3 linked regions of the Homo sapiens genome follow. The protein of the gene in region 3 interacts with the protein of the main gene of each other region in a biochemical or structural test. Each region holds a gene or a part of one and is shown on either strand. Other genes may lie near its edges.

What was found.
Region 1: the proteins of SSH1 (region 3) and YWHAQ form a complex in vitro, tested with the Homo sapiens proteins (one study listed by IntAct).
Region 2: of the proteins of SSH1 (region 3) and AKT1, one has a biochemical effect on the other in vitro, tested with the Homo sapiens proteins (one study listed by BioGRID).

Annotation. Positions count from the first base shown.
Region 1 is NC_000002.12:9,583,343-9,586,024, reverse strand, and holds the end of YWHAQ (14-3-3 protein theta), read left to right. Parts: intron 1-679; coding exon 680-739; 3' UTR 740-2,058; downstream 2,059-2,682. UniProt on the Homo sapiens protein: Adapter protein implicated in the regulation of a large spectrum of both general and specialized signaling pathways. Binds to a large number of partners, usually by recognition of a phosphoserine or phosphothreonine motif.
Region 2 is NC_000014.9:104,789,098-104,792,748, forward strand, and holds part of AKT1 (RAC-alpha serine/threonine-protein kinase), read right to left. Parts: intron 3,626-3,651; 5' UTR 3,547-3,625; coding exon 3,501-3,546; intron 1-3,500. UniProt on the Homo sapiens protein: AKT1 is one of 3 closely related serine/threonine-protein kinases (AKT1, AKT2 and AKT3) called the AKT kinase, and which regulate many processes including metabolism, proliferation, cell survival, growth and angiogenesis.
Region 3 is NC_000012.12:108,787,955-108,791,605, reverse strand, and holds part of SSH1 (protein phosphatase Slingshot homolog 1), read left to right. Parts: intron 1-2,361; coding exon 2,362-3,618; 3' UTR 3,619-3,651. UniProt on the Homo sapiens protein: Protein phosphatase which regulates actin filament dynamics. Dephosphorylates and activates the actin binding/depolymerizing factor cofilin, which subsequently binds to actin filaments and stimulates their disassembly.

The sequences.
Region 1 (2,682 bases), on a different chromosome or scaffold from region 3:
AGTAGTGCTTTCAAGAAGAGCATTGGGCTGCTGGGAATAGAGACTATCACTTTGCTTATTCTGAAAGTAGAGTGCCTTTTTAAAAAAGTTTCTCTTTTTTTTTTTTTTTTTTGAGAAAGGATCTCACCCTGTTGCCTAGGCTGGAGTGCAGTGTCATAATCATGGATCACTCCAGCCTCAACCTCCTGGATTCAAGCAGTCCTCCTGCCTCAGCCTCCTGAGTAGTTAGGACTGTAGGCACACACCACCCCGTACCTGGCCAATTTTGTTTTTGAAATTTTTTGTAGACGTGGGATCTTGCTATGTTGTCCAGGCTGTTGAACTCCTGGCCTCATGCGATCTTCTCATCTTGGCCTCCCTACGTGCTGAGATTACAGGCGTGAGCCACTGTGCCTGGCCAAATGCTTTTTAAATAAAAAGGAAGCTATAAAACCATGCTCCAGTGGTATATGTATGTATGTATGTATGTCATTTTGTAAGTGCATAGTGAAAGGTCTGCAAGGATGTACTTTGGGAAGGTGATGGTCTTTGGGGTTTTGAGAGAGAACTTCAGTCTTAGTCAAGATCTCCATTGTTTGAGGAATTTACTACTCTTGTAGTTAATTTTGATATAACAATACTACTTAGTGTAATTGCCTAATCTAGAAATAGTAACTTAATATGATTCTTCTTTTTCTAGCTTTGGACATCAGACAGTGCAGGAGAAGAATGTGATGCGGCAGAAGGGGCTGAAAACTAAATCCATACAGGGTGTCATCCTTCTTTCCTTCAAGAAACCTTTTTACACATCTCCATTCCTTATTCCACTTGGATTTCCTATAGCAAAGAAACCCATTCATGTGTATGGAATCAACTGTTTATAGTCTTTTCACACTGCAGCTTTGGGAAAACTTCATTCCTTGATTTGTGTTTGTCTTGGCCTTCCTGGTGTGCAGTACTGCTGTAGAAAAGTATTAATAGCTTCATTTCATATAAACATAAGTAACTCCCAAACACTTATGTAGAGGACTAAAAATGTATCTGGTATTTAAGTAATCTGAACCAGTTCTGCAAGTGACTGTGTTTTGTATTACTGTGAAAATAAGAAAATGTAGTTAATTACAATTTAAAGAGTATTCCACATAACTTCTTAATTTCTACATTCCCTCCCTTACTCTTCGGGGGTTTCCTTTCAGTAAGCAACTTTTCCATGCTCTTAATGTATTCCTTTTTAGTAGGAATCCGGAAGTATTAGATTGAATGGAAAAGCACTTGCCATCTCTGTCTAGGGGTCACAAATTGAAATGGCTCCTGTATCACATACGGAGGTCTTGTGTATCTGTGGCAACAGGGAGTTTCCTTATTCACTCTTTATTTGCTGCTGTTTAAGTTGCCAACCTCCCCTCCCAATAAAAATTCACTTACACCTCCTGCCTTTGTAGTTCTGGTATTCACTTTACTATGTGATAGAAGTAGCATGTTGCTGCCAGAATACAAGCATTGCTTTTGGCAAATTAAAGTGCATGTCATTTCTTAATACACTAGAAAGGGGAAATAAATTAAAGTACACAAGTCCAAGTCTAAAACTTTAGTACTTTTCCATGCAGATTTGTGCACATGTGAGAGGGTGTCCAGTTTGTCTAGTGATTGTTATTTAGAGAGTTGGACCACTATTGTGTGTTGCTAATCATTGACTGTAGTCCCAAAAAAGCCTTGTGAAAATGTTATGCCCTATGTAACAGCAGAGTAACATAAAATAAAAGTACATTTTATAAACCATTTACTATGGCTTTGTAACAATTGCATACCCATATTTTAAGGGACAGGTGAATTTACTACTTTCTAAAGTTTATTGATACTTCCCTTTTATGTAAAATGTAGTAGTGATACCTATATTTCCACATTGTGCATTGTGACACACTTGTCTAGGGATGCCTGGAAGTGTATAAAATTGGACTGCATTTCTTAGAGTGTTTTACTATAGATCAGTCTCATGGGCCATCTCTTCCTCAGATGTAAATGATATCTGGTTAAGTGTTATATGGAATAAAGTGGACATTTTAAAACTAGCAAAGTTAATTATGTGATTGTGAGTGCCTTGGCTGTTATTAGAATTGTGCTTCAGTGGATATTCAAAAGGAATGTAAGAGTTCAGACACAGATACTCCTCAACTTAAAATGGGGCTACACCCTGATAAACCCATTGCAAGTTGAAAATACGAAGTCAAAACTGCACTGAATACACCTGACCTAATGAACATTATAGCTTAACCTATCCTACATTAAATGTGCCCAGAACACTTAGCCCTACAGTTGGGCAAAATCAAAGAACATGAAGCCTACTTTATACTAAAGCGTTGGATCTCTCAGGTAATTTGTTGAACACTGAAAGTGAAAACCATTGATTGTATAGGTACTTGAAGTATGCTTTCTACTGAATGCCTGTCATTTCCACACCATTGTAAAGTCAAAAAATTAAGTTGGGGACTCTATGCTTCTGTTTGTAAACATTCAATCTTACTATTAGTGAGTTCAAAATAATTTTGGTTTTATAGTATCACAATAGCTATTATTTTACTAACCAATCTCAGATTAGTAAAATAACTGAGACTGAATGACTTGAGAACTGATTTTTAAGTCAGAAGATAATCTGAAAAAATAGCTATGTAGGATTCTTCTTGATCCTAAAATGTGAATATGAAA
Region 2 (3,651 bases), on a different chromosome or scaffold from region 3:
CCAGGCCTGCAGCTCTTCCCCGGCCCCTCTCGGACAGCGACCAGCCTGAGGGAGTCCAGGTGGTGCCCCTGCGGCCGGCACCCACTCCTGGCCTAGGCCCAGCCCTTTCTCGAGAGCCCAGAGCACCTCATCCTGGGTCCCAGCATCCCGGCCACCCGCCTCGGCCCTCTCCTGACCCACTTGGTCCAGCCATGTGGACGGGGGGACGCTCAGGAAGACAGCCGCGAGTGGACAAAAACAGGCTCCAGGCCGGGGCTGCACCAGGGCAGCTCTCCACGGGGCTAGGCTGCAGCCAGGCTGGTGCACGGCCCCAGGAGTACTGGGGCAAGCGGGCAAGGTGAGCAAGCTGTTTGGGGAAAGTACCTCAAAAGAGCCACACAGCCTCTGGCCAAAGCCTGGCACGGAGCTATCAAAGGAAGGAAAACTGCAGGCTGGAGGCCGAGTTCAGCCAGACCTGCGCCCTGGCCCAGGATTGATTTTTTAAAATTGTCAGCCTTCAAAAATCAGGAGACTTCACACAACAGAACAAATCTTTGAAAATGCAAACGTCTGAGCAACACTGAGCCCACCAGACCACCAATGGCCAGAGCTGAGCTGGGCTGCTTATCCAGTGAGACAGCCGAAACAGGAGGGGACATCTGGCCCCCTGTCCCTATAGGCCCCACCAGCCTCCTCACTAGCTCCTGCCCTTAACAGCCTAAGCTCACCCTCCAGGAACCATCTCCCTGTTAGATGTGCAGACCCAGAGGCCTCGCCTGGGTCCAGCCACAGGTCCACACAGGCCTGCAGCCGGAACTCCTGTGTCCCCATGCCCGGTCCCTTCTGTCCCTGAAGCTCCTCTGACTCAGAGCACACACATCAGAACAACAGAAAGCAGCCTGGGCCACTTCCCAGAGATGACGCTCACCTCCCAAGGAGCAGGAGAAGGAGCCTGCAGACACTGCCACCCCACCCCTCACACACAGGGCATACCCGTCCCCTCTCATCTCAATGACCACATCACCCCTGAAGGCACCATCACGCCACGTGTGGCCAGCCCAAGTAGCCGTGGTGGGACTGTCACCTGGGGATTCAGCTGAGAACCAAAGTGCCCCAGGCCACGGTCGTGGGGAGTCCCGGCAAAGGGGACAGGTGCGGGCCAGCCTCTGAGACAAGCACCCTGACCTGCAGGAGCAAGGCTGGGGGGGAGTGGAACAGGGCGTCTGCAAGGGGCTGCGGCCGGGCCTGGAGGACAGTCACTGCGTCCCTCCCTCCCTCCCCACCCCCAGCCAGGCCTGAGCACTGTGAAGCACGGGTGGGGTCAGCCCAGCACAGCCCTGCTAGGGACAGGAAGGCAGCTAGTACCTCTAACCAGTGTTGCGGGTGGGGCTGGCCCTGCCAGGAGGGTGGCACAGCACATCTGCAAGACACACAGGGGACCCCAGGGACGGGAGTGGCGAAATGCGGCAGGCCCCGGAGGACAGGCTTTCCTCCGCAAGGAGCGGCCGGCCATGCGGGTGGACGCCACCTGCTCTCGGCAACAAGAGGGGCTATGCCTGCCAAGGGCATATGTCATATCCACGCCACCTCCCATCCTCAGCGCCCACTACACTGGGGATGGAGGAGGAAGAGCCGGGGGTAGAGGTACAGGACCCTCTCTCCTGGCCTGAGGCTAGGGGCCAGATGACAGAGCCCAGAGGCTGCTGAGGCTGGCCGGACCCCAACTCAGGGCCGCCCACAAGCCATTCTCCACTCCACCAGGTCTCTCTCCCACCACCGCTCCCTGGTGTAGATGGGGAAACTGAGGCCCAAGGAGCTCAATGACCTTGCTCTTGGAAAGGGTCATGGCGATAGAGTGGCTAACCAGGGTTCAAACTCAGCTCTCTGGACGCCCCACTGGGCCTGATGTCCTGTCCCTGCCAGGCCCCTCCTGAAGGCACGACATCAGCAGCAGCCTGAAAATCACCTGGCCTCGGGGGAGCACTCCTGCCTAGGCCCAGCTGGCTGATGGGTGCCCCAGTAACTGGGGCCTGGGCCCCTGGGCAGTCAAGGCCCTGGCATCTCCTGGGTCAGCCCGAGATCCAACAGTCTATCAACAAACACACATTTGCCAAGGATAAAGAAGCAGCGGCCCCAGGCAGCAGACTATGTGACACAGAGAGGAACAGGGCCAGGGTCGGGGCAGGGGGTCCCTGACACCAAAGAGGGCTGTGAGGTGAGGAGAGGACCTCCAGGCACAGGTGGCAGGACTCCTGGGGAACAAGCAGGGGACAGCACACGGGGAGGGGATGGAGAAGGCAGGATGCGGCAGGAGGCCTTGGGGGGAAGCAGAGCCAGAAGCTCCCCAAGGACCACAGGCGTCTGCAGCCTCCTTGTCTTCATCTCGAGGCCCCGCGTGCCATCACTGGTAGCTGCCCACTCAAACACTCCAAACACACAGCCAGCCACACCCCTGATTCCCCCAGCATCTCATCTCGGTCACTCCTTCACCCCACCCCCAGGCTCCTGTGGCTCCTTAGGCCTGCTCTTCTGTGAGCTCCTATACATCCCACAATGCCCCATCTTGTGACACCTACTTTTGCCACACCTCCCTGTCTGCTCCAGCTGTGTTTGGGGTCTCCCCACTACCAGATGTGAAACCCATCTGCTAGAGGGTGTACGTAAAGCCGGGGGGCTGCTGGCATGAGATCACTAGAACTTAGGAGGGAACAAGTCTGGAAAAAGAAGTCAGGAGAGGGCGGACCGATTCCGCCTGGGGCAGAAGAGAGTGACTTGGCCAGAGGACCTGGACCTGAACAGGAAGCCCACCCTAGCAGGACAGAGGAGCAAAACAGCCACCCAGACTCCACCGCACCCCGCTGAGCAACGGAGGGTGGGTGAGGCAGAAGGGCCTGCACAGGGTTGGAAGGGGTGGGGCTATGTCCCCAGCTCCCATCCCACCCAGCTGCTGGCCAGGCCCCTCGGGCAGCACCTCCTCCATAGGCTGCAAGGCCAAATGAGTGAGGAGGGGGACACAGGGGCTGGGGGACTTGGCTCAGCCAGCTCTGCAGCTCCAAGGCAAACATGCCCTGTGCCCAGGCGGTACGGATTCCCCCCACCCCCAAAGCTCAGGCCTGAAGCAGGCACCAGGCCAAGCCAAGCAGCCCTGCCCTGCCCTCAGGAGCCCTTGGGCAGTGCCCTGGGCCGCCAGCGTGCCAGACCCTGGAACAGCCCAGTGTCCTCGCTGCCTTCCAGGAAAGCCAGGAGAGAGGCTGGCAGCAGCTCCCCCGCCTGCCAGGGCCCACACCAGGAAGCCACTCAGATGGCCGGCCCTGCACAGGGCCTCATCCTCCTGGCCTCCCCGAGGCCGTGCCCTCCATGCCATGGGAAGACATGGGGCCCAGGACACTCACCCTAGGCCAGCCCAGGAGCCCCAGGGGAGGCAGCCCCTCCCACCCAGCAGGGCACAGGCACTCACAGACCCTGGGGCTACTACCCCCATCTCTCCCTCCCCAGGCCCAGCCCTGGCAGCGGGTACTAACCTCGTTTGTGCAGCCAACCCTCCTTCACAATAGCCACGTCGCTCATGGTGCCCGAGGCTCCCGCGACGCTCACGCGCTCCTCTCAGGCTGGCGCTCCCCGAGCCCAGCTGGCCTGGCCACAGCCTCTGGGAGAAGCAAAGGAAGCTGAATG
Region 3 (3,651 bases):
TTCTATTTTTTTGTAGAGATGAGGTCTTACTGTTGCCCAGCCTGGTCTCAAGCCATCTGCCCACCTTGGCTTCCCAAAGTGCTGGAATTACAGGTTTGAGTCACCACGCTTGGCCTCAGATATATCATTTTATTCATAAATGCTCCAGTATGTTAACATAGCCACAATACCATTGTCACCTTTTAAAAAAACTGATAGGGCCAGACGCGGTAGCTCACATCTGTAATCCCAGCATTTTGGGAAGCCGAGGCAGGCAGATCAGGAGGTCAGGAGATGGAAACTATCCTGACCAACATGGTGAAACCCTGTCTCTACTAAAAATATAAAAATTAGCTGGGTGTGATGGTGCATGCCTGTAATCCCAGCTACTCAGGAGGCTGAGGCACGAGAATTGCTTGAACCCAGGAGGCAGAGGTTGCAGTGAGTCAAGTTCGTGCCACTGCACTCCAGCCTGGGTGACAGAGCGAGACTCCGTCTAAAAACAAAAACAAAACTGATAGTAATTTCCCAACGTTGTCAAGTATCCAGCCTTCCAACTTAGACTCTAATACTTAACTCCATTAGTCTCTTGGAGTTGCCATTTTTAGTGGATTATCTGCCACAAGGTTTGAGCTTCAACCTGGTGCTTACTGAGAAATTGGTTAATTCCAGCCAACCTTTTCCCTCCTCCATGGGGGAAGTGATGCAGGAGCAGAGGCTGGTTCAGTGGAAGGGTGGCCGTGCAGCCTGGTCTCCACTTCCACCCTTGCCCTGCTGCTGACTTTGTTGCCTCTGGCTTCACCTGCCCATCTCACAGGACAGCCGTGGTTCTCAAGTGGGGGCACTTGGGGTCCTGACAGATGCATTCAAGTATACAGCCAGTTTATTATTATTAACAGCATGTTATAATGCAAACAAAACTGGGCAGTTGCATCTGTCGACCTCCATAAAGCATTCCAAATCAAATACTAATTATGGATTTCCCCCACTTCCCTGCCTACCACAAAGCAAATACCCATAAAGACAGATGAGATAAAACCCTGGGCCAGGTGCAGTGGCTCACGCTTATAATCCCAGCACTTTTGGAGGCCAAGGCAGGCAGATCATCTGAGGTCAGGAGTTTGAGACCAGCATGACCAACATGGTGAAACCCTGTCTCTACTAAAAATACAAAATTAGCTGGGCATGGTGCCGCACGCCTGTAATCCCAGCACTTTGAGAGGCTGAGGCGGGCAGATCATCTGAGGTCAGGAGTTTGAGACCAGTCTGACCAACATGGTGAAACCACATCTCTACTAAAAATATTAAATTAGCTGGCTGTGGTGGTGCATGCCTGTAATCCCAGCTACTCAGGAGGCTGAGGCAGGAGAATTGCTTGAACCTGGGAGGCAGAGGTTGCAGTGAGACAAGATCACGCAATTGCACTCCACCCTGGGCAACAAGAGCGAAACTTCATTTAAAAAAAAAAAAAAACTGGAAGCCATGGCGGGGCCTTTAAGCAGGTGGGTGATGAGCCCCCTCTGGCTGTGGTCTACAGGCAGGCTGCTGGGGTAAGAGGGGAAGTTGGGATGCTGGGATCACAGTGGCTCAGAGGATGGGGCAAGGACATAAGGAGGTGTTGAGAGACAGAGCTGGCGGGGTGTAGTCGCTCACACCTGTAATCCTAGCACTTTGGGAGGCCGAGGCAGGAGGAACACTTGAGCCCAGGAGTTCGAGACCAGCCTGGGCAACATAGTAGGACCTTGTCTCTTATCTGTTTGAAAGAGAGAGAGACAGAGCCCTGTTGCCCTCCTGCCTTGTCCTGCCCTCCAGCCTACAGTCCTGTGCAGGCGGGGTGGGGTAGGGGGGTGCCCTCCTCCTTCCTGCTTTGCTTCTGGACCTGCATGCTGCTCTCTCTGGCTGGTCAACACCTGCTTGTCCCAGAAGCCTCAGCTGAAGTGTCAGTTCCTCTGGGAAGCCTTCCCTCCGCGGAGACTTAGAACTTGTCCCTCTCTCCCCTGGGACTCTTCACACAGCTTTCTAGTCCATTCCCAGGACCACTGGGTACCTGTCAGTTGGCCTGTAAGGAAGTGAAGGGTGGGGACACAGAGGCATGTGTCACGTTCACTTAGATCCTCACTGACCAAAAGGCAGGAGGGTTTCCTTAGGAAACAATGTAAACTTGTTTTCTATTGGGGTATAAAATCCACCTCAGGCCAGTGGTTATTCTCGATCAAGTGGGCTCCAGGAGGTCTGTCTGTCAGTATTAAGTGAAATGAGAGCCTCCCCTCCAGGCCTGGCCCCCAGTCCGGCCTCGCACCCCTTTCCCTGCCCACCCTCATGTTTTTGGTCTTTGGCTCATGACTGCACCGTCTCACCATGCTCTTGTCCCCTTCCTTGCAGGATGATGCTATATTTGGGATCCTTAACAAAGTGAAGCCTTCCTATAAATCCTGTGCCGACTGCATGTACCCTACAGCCAGCGGGGCTCCTGAGGCCTCCAGGGAGCGATGTGAGGACCCCAATGCTCCCGCCATCTGCACCCAGCCAGCCTTCCTACCCCACATCACGTCCTCCCCTGTGGCCCACTTGGCCAGCAGGTCCCGTGTTCCGGAGAAGCCAGCCTCTGGCCCAACCGAACCTCCCCCGTTCCTACCACCAGCAGGCTCCAGGAGGGCAGACACCAGTGGCCCTGGGGCTGGAGCTGCCCTAGAGCCACCAGCCAGCCTTTTGGAACCTTCCAGAGAGACCCCAAAAGTCCTGCCAAAGTCCCTCCTTTTGAAGAATTCTCACTGTGATAAGAACCCTCCCAGCACAGAAGTGGTAATAAAGGAAGAATCGTCACCCAAGAAAGATATGAAGCCAGCCAAGGACCTGAGGCTTCTGTTCAGTAATGAATCTGAGAAGCCGACAACCAACAGCTACCTGATGCAGCACCAGGAGTCCATCATTCAGCTGCAGAAGGCAGGCTTGGTCCGCAAGCACACCAAAGAGCTAGAGCGGCTGAAGAGCGTGCCTGCAGACCCAGCACCTCCCTCCAGGGATGGCCCTGCCAGCAGGCTGGAGGCCAGCATCCCCGAGGAGAGCCAGGATCCAGCCGCGCTCCACGAGCTGGGCCCCCTGGTTATGCCCAGCCAGGCCGGGAGTGATGAGAAGTCAGAGGCCGCCCCCGCTTCATTGGAAGGAGGCTCACTGAAGAGCCCCCCTCCTTTCTTCTACCGCCTGGACCACACCAGTAGTTTCTCAAAAGACTTTCTGAAGACCATCTGCTACACCCCCACCTCCTCTTCCATGAGCTCCAACCTGACCCGGAGCTCCAGCAGCGATAGCATCCACAGTGTCCGTGGGAAGCCCGGGCTGGTGAAGCAGCGGACACAGGAGATTGAGACCCGGCTCCGGCTGGCGGGCCTCACCGTCTCTTCCCCACTGAAGCGCTCACACTCTCTTGCCAAGCTGGGGAGTCTCACCTTCTCAACGGAAGACCTGTCCAGTGAGGCTGACCCGTCCACCGTCGCTGACTCCCAGGACACCACTTTGAGTGAATCTTCCTTCTTGCATGAGCCCCAGGGAACCCCGAGGGACCCAGCTGCAACCTCCAAACCATCAGGGAAACCCGCCCCAGAAAACTTAAAGAGCCCTTCGTGGATGAGCAAAAGCTGACCCGCCTTTTGCTGCGTCAGGCTGGGCGGATAT